Homo sapiens: one gene and its partners. The protein of the gene in region 1 purifies or fractionates together with the protein of each later gene. This does not show direct contact. Each region holds a gene or a part of one and is shown on either strand. Other genes may lie near its edges.

Evidence for each region.
Region 2: the proteins of NFIL3 (region 1) and FUCA2 purify together in Homo sapiens (affinity purification with mass spectrometry; one large-scale study listed by BioGRID and IntAct). This does not show direct contact.
Region 3: the proteins of NFIL3 (region 1) and COP1 purify together in Homo sapiens (affinity purification with mass spectrometry; 3 studies listed by BioGRID and IntAct, with this or other methods). This does not show direct contact.

Annotation. Positions count from the first base shown.
Region 1 is NC_000009.12:91,408,488-91,411,290, forward strand, and holds the end of NFIL3 (nuclear factor interleukin-3-regulated protein), read right to left. Parts: intron 2,694-2,803; exon of another isoform or gene 2,516-2,693; intron 2,420-2,515; 5' UTR 2,248-2,419; coding exon 859-2,247; 3' UTR 558-858; downstream 1-557.
Region 2 is NC_000006.12:143,498,120-143,501,778, forward strand, and holds part of FUCA2 (plasma alpha-L-fucosidase precursor), read right to left. Parts: intron 1-3,659. UniProt on the Homo sapiens protein: Alpha-L-fucosidase is responsible for hydrolyzing the alpha-1,6-linked fucose joined to the reducing-end N-acetylglucosamine of the carbohydrate moieties of glycoproteins.
Region 3 is NC_000001.11:176,200,785-176,204,443, forward strand, and holds part of COP1 (E3 ubiquitin-protein ligase COP1), read right to left. Parts: intron 1-3,659. UniProt on the Homo sapiens protein: E3 ubiquitin-protein ligase that mediates ubiquitination and subsequent proteasomal degradation of target proteins.

The DNA of each region.
Region 1 (2,803 bases):
TGTCATTATATATACTCAGATTATATATTTTGGCATGTGGTAATTGACGTGTTCTTTGAAATTTTAGAAACTAAACAGTGTTTAGCTTAGTTCCCTAGATTGTTATACTCTAGAACTGTTAAGACTTATAATAACATAAAAATGCCTCATCCTCAGTCTTTATCTGCTCTTTTAAAACAGACTTTAATAAAATGCATCAGTGACTCAACTATCCACATCCATGTGTCATACTTAAAGGGTAGATAACTAAGAAGAGGCTGTTACCAAACAACTTGTATTTTTATACTTAAGAAAATTATAGAGAAAACATAATCTTACAGAAAAATATATAATATAAAGTAATTTAGTGAATTAGTCTCAAATGCAAGAAAATTCACTGTTATTTTTCTTTCTTTAGAAGCCTGGAAAAACAAATTATTTGCTGAACTTAGCACTTCAGTTTTCTCTTATTCAGGGGAGAAAACTCTCTCATATAAAATGTAAAATATCTTAATATTTATTTTTATAACTTAAATTGACTTTTCTTCTCCATCAAATCAAATGCAATGGAGCAGGAGTTCTGTGTTTGTCACCAATCCTTTATTGAAACTGGTAACTTACACACTTTATAATAGAACAACAAAAATAATGTTCAATATATACAGCCTTCGCATGGACTATCTGACTATACACAGGCAGAGTGATAACACAATCTAATCTTCATCATAATCTGTGCACAAAAAGACACCAAACAGACAACATGTGCACATCACAGTGAAATGACATCACAGGTCCAGTGAAAATTCAGCATAATACAAAATGGACTGCTCTATTGCAAATGACATCTTTCTAAATGCCCAGCTCTTACTCAGTAGTAATTTACCCAGAGTCTGAAGCAGAGATTGGTTGTGTGGCTATAAGTCTCTTGAGTGAGACAACCTCTGCAGATAAGTTTGCTATCCCCTGCTTCAAATACAAGTTCTCTGGGTCAGAAACTTTGTAGCCACTGTCTTTCATTTCAACAACTCCAGTTTTGAAACTATTCTGAGTTTTGCCACTCAGTTCTTTTTGATGCCAGTGCTCCGATTTGAGAGACCAATCTTGAATGTTAGTCACTTGCACTGAGAAAGGAGTAAGAGAAGAATGTACCATACTTGGGGCACTATGCTTTTCGAGTTCGAAATGTCTTTTAGATGTCATGTCAATAGGTGAGGAAAGTTTTTGCGTGGCCTCAAATTCATTATCAAAGGCTTCTACTTTGATCTGCATGGCTTTGGCTTTGATCCGGAGCTTGTGTGGCAAGGCAGAGGAATTCACTTCTGGAACTTTAACCACAGTTGCATGCACATGCTTGAGTTCAACTGGAGAATGGATGGGGCCCTTGGGGACCTGTTGCTCGTCTTCTCCATCAGATGACTTTCCTACCACACCATCATCAGTTTCCGACGTTCTCGGGGAGTTGCTGGAGGATCGGTTGACTTGCAGTAGTGGGGGAGAGTGTGAGTACCCAGAGAAAGAATTCCCCATATAGTTTTGATAGATGGACGCTGTGTAAGAGCCTCGGTCATCTCTTGGCTCCCTTGTGTAGCTCTCTAATTCCATCGGCTCTTGCTTGATAATCTGGAACTTGTTTTCAGGACTTCTGCAGCTTCCCTGCACAGAGCTCTCCTGCGTGTGTTCTACTGAGGACACTTCTGAAACATCGGACAGCGAGCTTTGTGGAGAGTGTTTAATGACAGAAATACAACTACTTGACACCATCGAGGGTTCGTGCTCGTCCACAAATGAACTCACATTGGATTTGGAAGTCTGGTAATCTTGAAAGTACACAGCTGTAGAATTACTGAGTTTCTGAATCTCTTGAGCATATGCTGTGGAGCTAATTAAACCAAACTTTAATTTTAGTGAAAGCAGCTCAGCTTTTAAAGTGGCGTTTTCTTCTCCCAGTGCAATTAGTTTGTTCTCTAAAACCAGGTCATTCAGTCGACGCTTCTCACGAGATCTTTTGGCAGCTTCATTATTTTTCCGCCTTTTTTCCCAATACATAGCATCTTTCTTTTCATCAGGAATGAATTCCCGTTTCCTCCGACATGCAGAAGATTTGTTCTTCCCCACACTTCCTTCACTGAGAAGCAGCTCCTCACCTGTTGTGGAGTCTTCTGACACTTCCGTTAAAGCAGAATTAAGGACCATCATCTTGTCCACATTGCTACTGGCATCAAGAGACGCCTGCTCCTTTTTGACGGTCTGCATTTTTCTCAGCTGCATCAGAAACAACCTTACCCTATCTATGTGTGTAGGAGAACAAATTAATTTCCCCGTATTCTCAAGCTCTTTAAAAACTCTGGTTTAAAATCCATCAATATTCTTCCTTTTGTTCTACCGTCTGGGATAAATCCGTCAGGCTCCTTATTGAATGAAGTTGGGCCTCCTTCGTTATCTGCAATACATGAATAAAAAAAAAACCAGTTATTCACTGGATAAATGTTTATTACAAATTATGTACAAGGAAATATGCTAAGCATTTAGGGCATACAAGCACAGATGAGGCATGGCCACAGTTCTTTCTTTCAACAAGTTAGCATTTTCAAAAAGGAAATAAGTTCCCAAATACCTAAACTATAAAGCTGTAAAGGACAAATCCCTAATGAGGCCTATCAGTAAGAGAATATGTGATCCAGGAAAGTGAGGGAAAAATAAAATAACCTCTGCCCAGAGAGAAGTAGAGGAAGGCTGTATTTAATGAGGCGAAATGGAGAAATAGTTGGGTGTGGGCAATTACAGGAAGGAAATGACAGATAGCCTCTGGTTGGTAAGTTTCTAA
Region 2 (3,659 bases), on another chromosome or scaffold:
TTAAAGGATGAATGGGAGCAAAGAAGAAGGTAAGGGAAGTATGCTGTGGACAAAAAAAAAAGTGGATTTCATTCATTTATTCATTCAATTACTCAAGAAATACTTATTGAAATCTTAAAATGCTAGACACTGTTTTAGAGCTATATACAACATTGAACAAAGTCCTTGTCCTCATGGGGCTTACATTCTAGTGGAAGAAATTAGAATCAACAAATATGTCAGGTGTTGATTAAATGCTATGGAGAAAACAAGCCAGGTTAGAAGGACAGGGCATGCTAGGTAGGAAAGGAGGGGCCTGGGAGTGTTATTTTAAACAGAATAGTCAGGGAAGACTTCTTAGAGGTGGCATGGAAGAGAACCATGGGAGCGCCATAAGAGCACCACGGGAGCGTCTGGGGAAAACCTTCCAGACAGAATGACAAGTGCAGGAGCCCCAGTGCAAGAGTGTGCTCTGCCTGTTGATGCACTAGCAAGGCAGAGTGCCTGAAGGAGAGGAAGTGGGGGAGGGTGATGGCAGATAAGATCAGAGAGGCGATAGGAGCCAGATTTTATAGGCCCTTGTAAGCATCTATGGGACCTGGCCTTCTCTCTGAGACTGGAAGCCATTGGAGAAATGTGACCATGGGAGTGGCATTATTATTTAAAAGTATACTCTGATTGCTTTGTGGTGAATAGGTTAAAGGGTAGAAATAGAGACCTATTAAGAAGCTACTGAAATAATCCAGGCAGGGGCGAGACAATGGAAACTAAAAGGATGAGGGTTGCCACAGAGAGGATAAGAAGTGGACAGATTCTGAATATATTTCAAAGATGCAGAGGATGATATCTGCTAATGGGTTGGCTGTGACTATAAAAGAAGGGGAAACTAAGGGCTTCAAGGTTTTGGGCTTGACAACCACCTAAAGGATGAAGCTGCCGTTAACTGAGATGGGAAAGACCATGGGTGGAGCTAGTTGATAGCAAAATTTTAAAACTCAGGATTTCAGTTTTGGATGTACAGGTCTAAGATGCTATGCATCTAAGTGGAAATGCTGAGTAGGAAGTTATTGAGGCTGGAGTTCGGAAAGAGGTCTGCACTGGAAATAGAAATGTGGAGATCATCAATATGGCATTTAAAGCCATGAAAATGGATAAGATCACCTGGGACATTAAGATAAACGCAGTGGCTCACGCCTGTAATCCCAGCACTTTGGGAGGCCAAGGCAAGCGGGTCACCTGAGGTCAGGAGTTCGAGACCAGCCTGGCCAAACATGGTGAAACCCCATCTCTACTAAAAATACAAAAAAATTAGCCAGGCTTGGTGGCGGACACCTGTAATCCCAGCTACTCAGGAGGCTGAGGCAGGAGAATCACTTGAACCTGGGAGGTGGAGGTTGCCGTGAGCCAAGATCGCACCAGTGCACTCAAAAAAAGATAGAGAAGAATGGAAGTCCAAAGACTAAACCTCAGGGCACTTCAAGATTTAGAGGTTGGAAAAATGAGATGAAATCAGCAAAGGAACTAACTAAGAAGGAAGAGCCAAAAGGTACGACAAACACCAGGAGAGACAGTGATAAACTGAGGCAGACACTGCCAGTAAGTTAAGAAAATGAGCACTGGGGACTCATCACTGGAACTGGCAAGGCAGATGTTATTGTGGGCCTTGAGAAGAGCAATTCTGGAGTGTGGGGGTGGAAGCTCGACCAGAGGGGGTTCAAGAGAAAAACTGTAGCAAGGAATTAGAGATAGCAAGTGAAAACAATCCTTTCAAGACGTTTTACTACAAAGGAAAGGAGAGAAATGGGAAGATCACTAGAAATGCAAGTGAAATTGAGTTAAAGGGGAGAATTGCTATAACAATCCTTGGGTGGATGATTTGCAATGGGATCAGGACACAAGGGTTGACCTTAAAGCCAAAAGTGAGATAATTTTACATTGTATGTGTCTGGGTGCGTGTGTGTGTGTGTGTGTTTCCATAGTTAACAGTTAGCTGTCCAGAAGCAGGCATGGAATAAGTAGATCTGTATTTAAAGTTGATGTTCCGTCAAGTGAGTATGGCAGAGGGAGCAAGGGTTCAGGAGTTGGGTGTATGCAATAGATTAGTTACAGTGATGGGCCACAGAATCTGTCCCGGATAAGGAAAAAGACAGAGAAAAGATGATAGGATTAAAAGATAGTATGATCACTGGATTATAGATCCCTTTGGAAGCCGAAGTGCCATGCAGAGTGAGCCAAAATATAAGAAGTGGTAGGTAGATGGCAGAATCCTTCAAACTGGAGCCGTGGAAGGGGTTCAGTTATTGGTAATGCAAAGTCTAAAGTATGTTTATAAAAGAAAGGGAAGTTAAGGACACCAAGGTTTTTGGCCTGACAACCACCTAAAGGATAAAGCTGCCATTAACTGAGATGGAGAAGACCGTGGGTGGAGCTAGTCTACAGCAAAAATTTAAAACTCAGGGCTTCAGTTGTGGACGTACAGGTCTAAGATGCTATGCATCCAAGTGGAAGTGTTGAGTAAGAAGTTCGACTTTGCATTACCAATATGACCTTGTATATTGATAATGCAAAGGAACAGGTAACAAAGGTCAAGCGGACAAGACCCCTAGAAGACAGGAGGTGCAGGTAATTAGAACTGTGAATAAAAATTTAAATCTCTAAGAATTATGTGAAGAGTAGTTCTGGGGACAGGGACAGCAAGCCAGGGCTCTCTCAAAGGATTTTAAGGGTTGACCTGGGAGTCTGTAGGTGACTGCAAGAAGGTGGGCATGATGAACCCTGGGGGAAGAAGGCTCCTATGGTGAGGAGGGAGAGCAGGACCACTCAGTGGCAGGGAAGTTGGTAGGAGCCAGACTCACAGTTTTATAAGCCACATTAAATATTTAGCTTTTATGTTTATTTCTTGAAATAAACACAATAGAATAATGGTTAATGATTGTGAAGTCCCAGATCAGATACCCTCATATTCAAATGTAAGTATTCAAAAGTAAGAAGCAAATTCCAAAACCAGATTTCTACTATTCTCTGTCACATGAGAGATTGGTATTGAGTTCTCATTATGGCTTCTCCCAGATCAACATTTTAAAATTCCACAATTATTTGCTCTGTCCAGATTGCCTTACTCCATTTTATTCAATGGGTTGTTAATGTTTTAAGTCATAAGTCAAGTAGATTGAAGAACAATTAGTCTAATCTTTCGGTTCCTATTTGATCAGACAGTACTCAGGTGGCAACTGAAAGCGAATTTTTAGAACTTCACCAATACTCATCTTATTTTATATATGTTAAGAAACCATATCAGAAACTGTCATATTTGTGGAGTCTGATTCGGGTACTCATTGACACACAGAACCTCCTCAAGCTCAGAGAGAAGCATCTTCCCTGAACCCTCCCTATTTTGATTCATTTTTAATCTAACATTTTCTCTGCCATTGGGTACCTCTTGTTTGCTAATTTCATGGGATGCAACATCTGCAAAAGTCAGAATTTACCGAACTGGTTAAACAGTAATCTCCGTTTTAGACTAACCATTCAGCATTTTTCATTGGTCTGAACAGCTTACAATTTTTCTAAGAGCTGAGTACTTTCAGCCAAAATTTGTCCACTACTGGGAGATACCTAGAAATGATGTAAGCTCAATCTGATAAACAATAAATGTTTCAAAACATGCAAATTCTTCCCCT
Region 3 (3,659 bases), on another chromosome or scaffold:
GAGGACAAAGAACAAGTAAGGTGGAGGGCAAAGACAAGTCTGCACAAAAACCTGAATGCTTACAGAATTTTGTCCTACATACAACATCACATATAAAAACAGATCAAGAACTTTAAAAACAATTTAGCAGAGTTTCACTACATTGCCCAGGATGGACTCAAACTCCTGGAGCTGAGACTACAAGCATGCACCATCATGCCCAACTTAAAAAACATTTTATTTGGTATACAGGTTGAATATCCCTAATCTGAAAATCTGAAATCCAAAATCATGCAAAATCAAAAATTTTTTCAGTGCCAACATGACTATCAGAGGAAATGCTCACTGGAGCATTTTGGATTTCAGATTTTTCAGATTAAGGATACTAACCTGGTAAATATAATTTAAATATTCTAAAATTCGAAAACAAAAACCAAAAAAACCCCTAAAATCCAAAACACTTCTGGTCTCAAGCACTTCAGATAGAGGATACTCACCCTGTAATACAAATTTTAACAGGAAAAAGACGATGGGCTAATTCCACCGTCAAAAAAGCCTTTCCTCCCAAGCTGTGGAAGTTTTCTGAGGAAAAGGGTAGCAGGTTAAAATAATTATATAAAATATGAAAAAATCACCATTAAGAAAAAACATACACATACAAGAAGGAAAAGTAAGCAACAAGGTTTAAGGCTACAGTTACTTTAATCAGTAACAGTTCTTAGATGGAACATATCCACCTATGTAATGTTGGCTCATTATCAGAAAAGGTATAAAGATTTGTAAAAGGAAAAGATAACTGCTTATCAACACATTCTTTAGTAATGAACTACTATTGCACAAGTACCTTCTTCTCAATTTATAGACTACAATTCCAAGTTAATAGTCTTCCTATCCTGTTTCATGATCATCTATTTTCTCTACCATTTAATTCACCCATAGAAGTCTCCTGCTACCATTGATGCTGATGCCCCACCATCTGATAGTCCACAGGTCTGACAGTACCAATAGGTCTGATAAAATATGACATCATCTCCTGCAGAGTATGTTTCATCATTGACATCCAAATGGCACATGTATTATAAAGCAAAAGAAGCATCAAGTTTGACTTTTGCAGATTCAAATAAGTTCTTGACAGATATTACTATAATAATATAATAAATGCTGGTTTATTCCAGTAACTGAACATGCTTTTAACAGCTCTTTAAATTATATTTAGTCCTATATTTATAAGCTCACAATGGTCTAAAAAGAAAAGTCACTTAAACTTTCCACTTTCCTATCAGAGGAAATTCAGTCCTATAATTCAGTGACTTTAAAAAAAATTTTACCAGTGTACCCAGTGAGAAATACATTCCACATACATTGCTGCACAAACTGTTACTGTCTTTATTACGACAGATTCTATGATACGTTCTAGTTCACTTTTTTTTTTTTTTTTTTTTTGGAGACAGGGTCTCACTTTGTCGTCCAGGCTGGAGTGCAGTGGTGTGATCATAGCTCCCTGCAGCCTCGACCTCACAGGCTCAAGTGATCCTCCCATCTCAGCTTCTTGAGTAGCTGGGACTACAGGCACAAGCCACCACACAGGCTAATTTTTGTATTTTTTGTAGAGATGGGGTTTCGTCATGTTGCCCAGGATGGTCTCAAACTCCTGGGTTCAAGTAATCCTCCTGCCCTGGCCTACCAAAGGGCTGGGATTACAGGCGTGAACCAAGGTGCCCACCCTCACTTTTTAATAGTCTGAAAAACAGAGCCACGTGTTTTTCAGACTATTAAAAATATCCTGGGATTACAGGTGGTGGCACCCGTCTCTAATCCCCGCTGCTTGAGAGGCTAAGACATGAAGATTGCTTGAGCCCAGGAGTTTGAGACTAGCCTGGGCAACATAGGGAGAGCCCTGTCTCAAAAAAAGGAAAAAAAAAATTGGAAACCAGTTATATTAACAAGAATGGTCAACAGGCTTCATTTTTAGTGCTAAAATGTAATTAATAGGTAATGGCTATATATTGTACTATGCATAGTCCATTAGAGTATTTAACATCTGCCATGGCACTAAGAAAAAGGAATGGTACTAACATCTGTCATGACACTAAGAGAGGCAATGATACCAGGTTATGATATTATAATTACACAGTTAAAAGCCATTCTTCGAATTAAATCATGAGCTCCTTAAGAAGAGAGAATCTTAGTTTAACACAAAATAGGCAGTCACATATTTACTGAATGGTAGATCTATTTAATGTAGATCCTAACTATTTTCTATCAAGCAGATGATTAAAAGTCAACCTTCTCGGCCGGGCGCGGTGGCTCACGCCTGTAATCCCAGCACTTTGGGAGGCAGAGGCGGGCGGATCATGAGGTCAGGAGATCGAGACCATCCTGGCTAACACAGTGAAACCCCGCCTCTACTAAAAATACAAAAAATTAGCCGGGCGGGGTGGCCGGCGCCTGTAGTCCCAGCTACTCGGGAGGCTGAGGCAGGAGAATGGCGTGAACCCGGGAGGCGGAGCTTGCAGTGAGCCGAGATCGCACCACTGCACTCCAGCCTGGGCAGCAGAGCGAGACTCCGTCTCAAAAAAAAAGAAAAAAAGTCAACCTTCTCATAAAGAGCTTACTATCTACATGCAAACGTATACTTCTGCTGCAAGAATGGCTGGGACTTGCAGAGGTAGAAAACTTCATTTGAGATAGCTGGAAAAGCTAATACAAAGGCAGTAGTTATAGAATTGTTTAAAAAAGGAGTCCGTATAAAAAACAGAAGTCATCTTTCAAATACAGACCAGACTCACAGTCTAGTTAAATGAACCGTAAGAAAATTTTGCAAAAAACAAAATAACAAAGACTTCCTCTGAATGTTGAAAATGTATCCAATGTCAAGCTAAATACTACTGTCCTGTATTAGATTCTCCATCAATAAAACACTGTTAAAATTATTCAACTTGATAATACCTTCAATCTTTTGTGTAAAATAAAATATAAAAATGCAACCTAAACCCCTAAAATGTTTATGAATTCTTCAATTAAATATAAACTTACTTTCAAATATAAGTCAGGAGAGGCCAATGTTTATTACTGAAATTAGGTACGTGACTATTTAAATCAACAGTTCTCAAGGAGGGGAGAAGGACAGGTCCCTATCACCAGGGGAGCATATGCAAATTACACCACCCACCCCAGCCTCCAATTCAGGTACGTCTTCTTGGGATGTGGGCAGGTAAGAAAAGGGAGTGGTGAGGGATAAAACATTTATCTCATATGATTATGAAACAGCTGCTTCTCCTCCAATCTGTGCCGTTTAAGAACCACTGGGCTAAATACATGTACTCGAACTTACAGATCTGAAACTCTCTAATTGCACACAAAGAAAACACAAAGTTGAGAACTGGGAAATCTGAGTTCTCATTTTGTCCTTACCTGTCCAACGACAAACAAAATTACTTCTCTGTGCCTCAATGAGAAAATAATTAGTATTGTATTAAAAATAAGTTATATATAACATCACAGAATTGTTCTAAGGATAAAATAAAACGTGAAGCATAAGCATATCTTTAAAATGTCCCATAAATGAATAAGAAATTATCATTATTTGAACTTGGGCTTCGTTTAAATATAAAAGCATAGAATAATTTGAATTGGTTCACAGTTTGACCTTGGGGCATACAAGACAAGACCCACAGCCA